Homo sapiens: one gene and its partner. The protein of the gene in region 2 purifies or fractionates together with the protein of the main gene of each other region. This does not show direct contact. Each region holds a gene or a part of one and is shown on either strand. Other genes may lie near its edges.

The links. The genes of interacting proteins can lie anywhere in the genome.
Region 1: the proteins of TASL (region 2) and SLC25A31 purify together in Homo sapiens (affinity purification with mass spectrometry; one large-scale study listed by BioGRID and IntAct). This does not show direct contact.

The regions. Positions count from the first base shown.
Region 1 is NC_000004.12:127,771,211-127,774,792, reverse strand, and holds the end of SLC25A31 (ADP/ATP translocase 4), read right to left. Parts: intron 2,150-3,582; coding exon of another isoform or gene 2,098-2,149; intron 1,408-2,097; coding exon 1,219-1,407; 3' UTR 501-1,218; downstream 1-500. UniProt on the Homo sapiens protein: ADP:ATP antiporter that mediates import of ADP into the mitochondrial matrix for ATP synthesis, and export of ATP out to fuel the cell.
Region 2 is NC_000023.11:30,567,382-30,571,653, reverse strand, and holds part of TASL (TLR adapter interacting with SLC15A4 on the lysosome), read left to right. Parts: intron 1-4,272. UniProt on the Homo sapiens protein: Innate immune adapter that mediates the recruitment and activation of IRF5 downstream of endolysosomal toll-like receptors TLR7, TLR8 and TLR9.

The DNA.
Region 1 (3,582 bases), on a different chromosome or scaffold from region 2:
AACCATCTTTCTTTGAACCATTTGATAGTGCAGCAGGAAAGGAAAATATTTTCTATTTTGTTCCTGTAACTCCATTATGTTGACCACTGCAAGAAATGATGTTTAGAGTTTGACTTTTTTTCCTCTTGAGGGATAACACCAATATATTTAAAAGTATGGTCTGTATTATTGTCCTTGAAATACGCTTTGTCCCTGTGCATAAGGAAGTTCCTCCACCCCATTTTGCCCATTCACAGCCTCAGAAAATCCGTCTATAGTTTATCCCCACTAGCTTAACATCCCTTTACTCATTAGAACGTTAAAAACTTGGGGATTTCAAATATACTGTATTCTACAACAGCTCTGAAAAACAAGACAAACTCCCGTACAAAACCTTGGAATGCTGTTTATATCTGTCCATTGAGAAATACCTCTCTCTTTAGTTAAGCCAGTTCTGACAAAAATTTTGCTATACTCTGCTTACTAATAAAGTCAGAGTCAGGGAAAAAAAGACTCCTTTATAACAGTTAAGCTTCCTTTATTGTCAACAAAATATACAAACTAATTTTCAAGAGGATACCTTTTGTTCTAAGATATATTCACACTAGCAAGATTTTATTTATTTTAAAGATAAACATCAGCAGATAAGCCATTTTATTTTCCAGTTTCAGTTTTATAATGTCACTAAAGTCATTATCAAATTTTAAATGATCACATCTATAATCAAAGGCTGATACTGTAAATATTATACACAGTAATAACAACTGTCTTAGAAGAGATATAGAACAAAGCTTATTTCTGCCTACACATATGATGACATCTATTGATAAGCTTTTAAGAAATATGTCATACCATATGACTTCAAAAGATGGGAAAACAGGTATATTAAATGAATAGCAATTTAAAAGACGCTACTTTCATTTCCTAGATTTCAGCATTAATCTAGGATTATATGATTAATTTTTAATCATAAAAAGAATTTTAAACTAACAAATTAAAATATACTACCTATAATAAATGAAATATCACACTAAAATGTGTTTGAGTCTAAGTGGGAGGAAAATCCACATTTATCTGATTTTTAGTATTTAAATTCTTGAAAAAATGTATGCTTTATTGCAGAACTAGCACTTTAACAAAATACAGACAATAACACTATCAAAATGTATGCAAATGGCAGCTATGTAATTTGTATGTTTAACAAGTTAAATCCATGTATTTCTTAATTTACTCTCCCGATTACCTACCACCAATATCAATATGAAAGAATTCTTTAATTTTATCATATAATACCAACACCAAAGCACCCCCTGTACCGCGAAGAACATTGGAGAAGGCGCCACGAAAAAAGGAACTGATTCCTTCATGTTGGTATATCTTCACAAAGCAGTCTAAGGTTCCTTTATATTGCCGTTTAGCCTCACCACTCTATACAAAGAAAAACAAAGGGTTTTCCATTATCTGAATATCTTTTATCTTAAGACAGTCTTCTATTAGCACTAAGGATAGATAAGATAAACACTGTGTTGAGTAGCACTGTGTTAATAGGCATATATGGCTACTGTCCCTGGTGGTTAGAGAACATTCATACTTTTCAGGCACACTTGAAAACTGACCATACATTAGGCGTTAACAAATGTCAAAGGATGTCATCACATAGACCATGATTTATCCTCTCACAGCACTGCAATTAACTGAGAAATCAATAGCAAAATAGAAAAATACCATATGGGCTAGGCATGGTGGCTCATGCCTGTAATCTCAGCACTTTGGGAGGCCGAGACAGGAAGATCGCTTGAGCCCAAGAGTTTGAGACCACCCTGGGCAATATGGAAAAATGCCATCTCAACAAAAAATACAAAAAATTAGCTGGGTGTGCTGGCACATGCCTGTGGTCCCAGCTACCCGGGAGGCTGAAGTGGGAGGATCACCTGAGCCTGGGAGGTCAAAGTTGCAGTGAGCCATGATCACACCATTGCACTCTAGCCTAAGTGACAGGGTAAGACCCTGTCTCAAAAAAAAAAAAAGAAAAAAAAAAAGAAATCATATGTTGGGATGTTAAGAACACTTCTTCTCAGAAAATACTGAAAACCAAATGATAATTACAAAACCTCTTACCTAAATTTTTAAGATGCAGCTTCGAGTTGTAATTTATAAGGAAATTAATGACCTTGAAATATTAGAAAAGGCTAAAAGTTAATGAGCAACCTAAACATTTTTAGACAAAGTATAAACCTAAAGAAAGTAAAAACAAGAAAATAACTGGCAGAAATAAAGGAAATAGAAAACACACACAACAGCACAAAAAAAGTCCAGTTAGGTCTTTGAAATACTTTGCTGACAGAGTTTGGAAATATTGTTTGAGGAAAAAAGAGAAAAGGCCCCAAGATTATCAGAAATGGCAACGGTAACAAAAATGCAGATGATCCAGAAATTTAAGAGCAAGATGATGTCATAAAAAACTTCATGACAATTATTTTTAAGTCATAAGAAATGGATAAATTCCTAGAAAAGTATAATTTACCAACAGAGTAGAAAAGAACTGGAATAATACTATAGTTGTTAAAAATTCAATCAGTTGTTGAATATCTTCTCATAAAGAAAACCACATGTCCAAAAGGCTTTACATGTGAGTTCTGCTAAACATTCAATGAACGTTTAATTCCAATCTTTCAGAAATTATTCTAGAGGAGAGAAAAAGTGGGATGACTCCTCAACGTATTTTATGAGGCTTGCACAGACTTGCTACTGAAGTCATACTAGAGCAATACAAGAAGGAAAAATACAAGCCAGTGTCATTAAACATGGATGCAAAAATCCTGAACAAAACCCAGCAATCAAATCTAGCAAGTGCTACAGAATACAATACTTGCAAACTGGGTTTATCCCAGGCATACAAGAGTTAGCTCTAGAAAACAGATTAATTTAACACAATATGTAAACATATTAAAAGAAAAAAAGGTTTAATCATCTCAGCAGATACAGAAAGAACATGACTGCCATTCATAATTAAAAATTGTTGTAATCCAGGAACAGAAAGGAACTGTCATTACATGATAAATGATAATGACAAAAAACCCCCACAGTTAATATTAAATTATGTAACACTGACGTCATTTTCTGTATGATTAGGAACAAGATAAGGTTGCCAGTTACTACTTTGTAAATATAACACTGAATCCGGGGTCTCAGTGAGTACAGAAAGGCAAGAAAGAGAAATAAAAGGTGTAAGAATTGATAAGGAAGGAAGAAAACACTGATATTAGTTGCAGATTATATGCCTGTTCATGTAAATAAAAATTTGGAAGGTATGTACATACACATTCGTGTTTGTAATAGGGTTAACAAAGTTGTGGGATGTAAAATGAAATACACAAAAATTAAGTAGTACTGTTATGGGCTGAATTGTTAAAATCATATATTGAAATCCTAATAACTCCCAGTACCTCAGAATGTGACTGTATTTGGAGATAGGGTCTTTAAAGGTAATTAGAATTAAATGAGATCACAAGAGTGAACCCTAAGCCAATATGACTGTCCTTATAAAAAGGGGAACAGGCCAGACGTGGTGGTTCAGGCCTGTAATCCTACCACTTCGGGAGG
Region 2 (4,272 bases):
AGTAATGCCCCCCCCCCCTTTTTTTTGAGATGGAGTCTCGTTCTATCGCCCCGGCTGAAGGGCAGTGGCCCGATCTCAGCTCACTGCAACCTCTGCCCATGACCCCACCCCATTCAAGCGATTCTCCTGCCTCAGCCTCCTGAGTAGCTGGGATTACAGGCATGCACCACCACGCCCTGCTAATTTTTTGTATTTTTAGTAAAGATGGGGTTTTGTCATGTTGGCCAGGCTGGTCTCAAACTCCTGACCTGAGGTGATCCACCTGCCTTGGCCTCCCAAAGTGTTGAGATTACAGGCGTGAGCCACCACGCCTGGCCAAATGGGTTTCTTTCTTTCTTTCTTTCTTTCTTTCTTTCTTTCTTTCTTTCTTTCTTTCTTTCTTTCTTTCTTTCTTTCTCTTTCTTTCTCTTTTTCCTTCCTTCCTTCCTTCTTTCCTTCTTTCCTTCTTTCTTTCCTTCTTTCTTTCTTTTTCTGAGACTAAATTTTGCTCTTGTTGTTCAGGCTGGAATGCAGTGGCGCAATCTCAGCTCACCACAACCTCCACCTCCCGGGTTCAAGCGATTCTCCTGCCTCAGCCTCCCGAGTAGCTGGGATTACAGGCATGTGCCACCACGCCAGACTAATTTTGTATTTTTAGTAGAAATGGGGTTTCTCCATGTTGGTCAGGCTGGTCTCGAACTCCCGACCTCAGGTGATCCACCCACCTCGGCCTCCCAAAGTGCTGGGATTATAGGTGTGAACCACTGCACCCGGCCTTGAATGGGCCCTTTTAAGTGCATTAAAGTGGAAGATGAATTGAAGCAAAGGGCCTAAACTAGGAAATTAATTATGAAGATTAAATGTGTTAATATATGTATTTTTGTTTATAAATTTTATGTATTATTACTCTGCATAGCTTTAGAAAGGTCTTTTAAAAGCCTCCTTAGTGTGCTCTCTGCTGCCCTCTGCTGCTAATTTTCAGAAATTAATTTTGATTCTGATTAATGCTCACTTTATTCTTCATAATCTCATTCAAAATTAAAGTTTGATGGTACTCTAGACATAATTTAATCCCACATTCTCAATTTACAGATGATAAGTTGAGTGTCTGAGAGGTTAAGAACATGAACTTGGGCTCTGTTTCCTGACTGCTGGTGATTTTGGACACTACTCAATTTTGTCATCTGTAAAATGAGCATAATAATAGTACCTAAATATTAGAGTTTTTTTGTGATGATCAATTAATTTAGTACATAAAAAGCACTTAGAATATTATCTGGGTTGTAGCTAGTACTATGTTAGCTATTTTATAGATCTGGCAACAACTAAACTAAAACCACTGCTAGTGACAAGATCAGAGAACTCTGGTCTCTTAAATACTAGTGCGTGCTCTCTCTCTTTCTCTTCATATATATGTGTGTGTGTGTGTGTGTGTGTGAGAGAGAGAGTATTTATGTACACACACATATATATTTTATAAAATATATACAATTCTCCATGATTTGTTAAGTGTGAAGGAAAAGACACTGGAAGACGTTTGTAGATGAGATGTTCTAGGTAACATACATATATTTATATATATACACCACATATGTATATTGCCTGAATGAGTATGAAATTAAATTTTGCCTTCAAATATAGATTTTTTTTTTTCTTTTTAGACAGAGTCTTGCTCTGTCGCCAGGCTGGAGTGCAGTGGCGCTATCTGGGCTCACTGCAATCTCCAATCTCCACCTCCTGGGTTCAAGTGATTCTCCTGCCTCAGCCTCCCGAGCAGCTGGGATTATAGGCACACGCCACTACCCCCAGCTAATTTTTGTATTTTTAGTAGAGACGGGGTTTCACCATGTTGGCCAGGATGGTCTCGAACTCCTGACCTTGTGATCCATCCACCTCGGCCTCCCAAAGTGCTGGGATTATAGGTGTGAGCCACCGTGCCCGGCCCGAATATAGATTTTTAAAATGTGACTTGTTCAATGCATCCAAAGCTCTTGTAGTCTTTACAAAGCCCTTGCTGCTGCTCCTTCCTCCTTGTACTGTTCCAGGTAGGCTCCCCATAGAAGAAGTTACAAACCTAGAAAGCTCCTCAAGCCCCCAATATAAATTCCTACTGCCTGCAAGTGGAAGGTGACTTCACTGTGGACTTTAAGTAGCTTCTCTAATGAGCTGCCTACCTGAATTTCCAATGGACAATTACACACTTGCACCCAGACAGTCTATCTCTTGTCAGGCTCAAGAAGAGCTAAGCTAAACCCATTGCTTCCTCCACAGCTCCTCCTGATCTTCCCATTTTGGTCAATGATGGTGCCATTTCCCCTACATACCCACACTCAGAGTTACTTTTGGCTCCTCTCTCTCCTTCACTTCCATGTCTGGGGGTCTTGGTCTCTCAAATGCATTCCTTCTCTTTCTTTTCTCCTACCTCCCTCCTGGTTCCTGTCCCAGTCATCTCAGGCTGGGATGAATCCAACAGCCTCCTAACTTGGGTCCTTAATACCAATCTCACTCTGCTGAAATTAATTTTGCACTTTATTGCCATATTATATCATGTGGTGAATCAGCTTCCTTACCTGCCAGAACGTTGCAGTGCCTACAGGATGAATCAAATGTACTCAGTCTTGGATGTCCCAACTTACCTCCCTGACCTGACCTTATCTCCCACTCCTCCCTCTCAGAAATCTTTTTTCCTTTTTTTTTTTTTTTTGCTGGGGACGTGTCTATCCCTAGACACTAGGATGCACTTTCTGTTTTTCCGTCATCAGACCCACCACTTTACTGGTCTGTCTTGGGTCCTACACATCAGAATGATAGGGTTCTTATTCTGCCAGAATTAAGATACCAGCAAACCTCTCAGTTGACAACCAATAGGAAAAGGGGCCCATTACTGTACTCAAAATAAAATTCTAGGCCCTTTTCCTTCATTGTTATGAAGGAGTGTGGAGATTATCAGGAGTACTTATAAAACTCATCTGCATACAATGAAAGAAGACTCTGTTAGGGTTGATTGTTTAATATGAAGAAAAATAAGATAAATAGTGGGAGACTTGGAGTGTGTCTGAATGGGGATAAGGGGTCCTAAAGGGGGGATTCGGCAAACTGGGACATTTCAAGAAAGGCTCTTAGGTGAGCATGACACTGACAAACAATGCTTGCGCCCCACCTACATTGGTGTCTGTTACTGACCCACATGAAATTGACAACACAAACCTCTTCACTTTTATTGCCCTTCTCTCCTCTGTCTGCAATGTTTTCCCTCTTTTCACTGCCATTGGAATCCTTTCTGTCTGTAGGGCCAAATAAAGGTTAACCTGTCACACAGTCATCTCTCTCTCTTCTTCACCCTTAGAATATGCAATATCTTTAACCACAAACAGCTGTACAGGAAATGCCATCTTCTTCTCCCCCCACCCCCTTAGTTACTATTTATTTATTTATTTGAGACAGAGCCTCACTCTGTCATCCAGGCTGGAGTGCAGTGGCACGATCTCGACTCACTGCAACCTCCGCCTCCCCAGTTCAAGTGATTCTCCTGCCTCAGCCTCCTGAGTAGCTGGGATTACAGGCGTCTGCCACCACGCCCGGCTAATTTATGTATTTTTTAGTAGAGATGGGGTTTCATCATATTGGCCAGGCTGGTCTCTAACTCCTGACCTCAGGTGATCCGCCCTCCTTGGCCTCCCAAAGTGCTGGGATTACAGGTGTGAGCCACCGTACCTGGCCCTTAGTTACTTTAAAATATTTATCTTTAGTTTTTATTTTAATTAAAAATTTAATCACAGTTATACTTGCACATAAATTGGGTCAAATAATTCTGAGAAATTTGTTATGAAAAACTGCTGTCCTTGACTCCTTTTCCAGAAGCAACTACTTTTATCTCCCTTAACTAATTACTTGATATTTACCATCATTTCTTTAAATAGCATGCTGTGTTGCAACTTTTGGATTTTTCAGTTTGGGGCATTATTTCTTGACTTGTCATCATGAAGAGGAGGATTTATTTCTCCTTCCTCCCCTGGCTTCACCAAGCATATACAACTTTGTCCCCTTCCTCTCACTATACAGAGTGGCCGCCTAGTCTGGACTCACAGGCAAATGCCTAGGATGATTTTTATTGGTATCACTGTACTATATGTACATTAAAATAGTATTTTATATATACATGATATTCTGCCATATATGATAAAAATATTTTATCTTTGTGTACTGACTTCATGGTCACCCTGTGGTTATATTTTAAATTGAGTTAGATCTATTTTCAGTGCTTTATATTATCATGTGCTATATTATCATGAC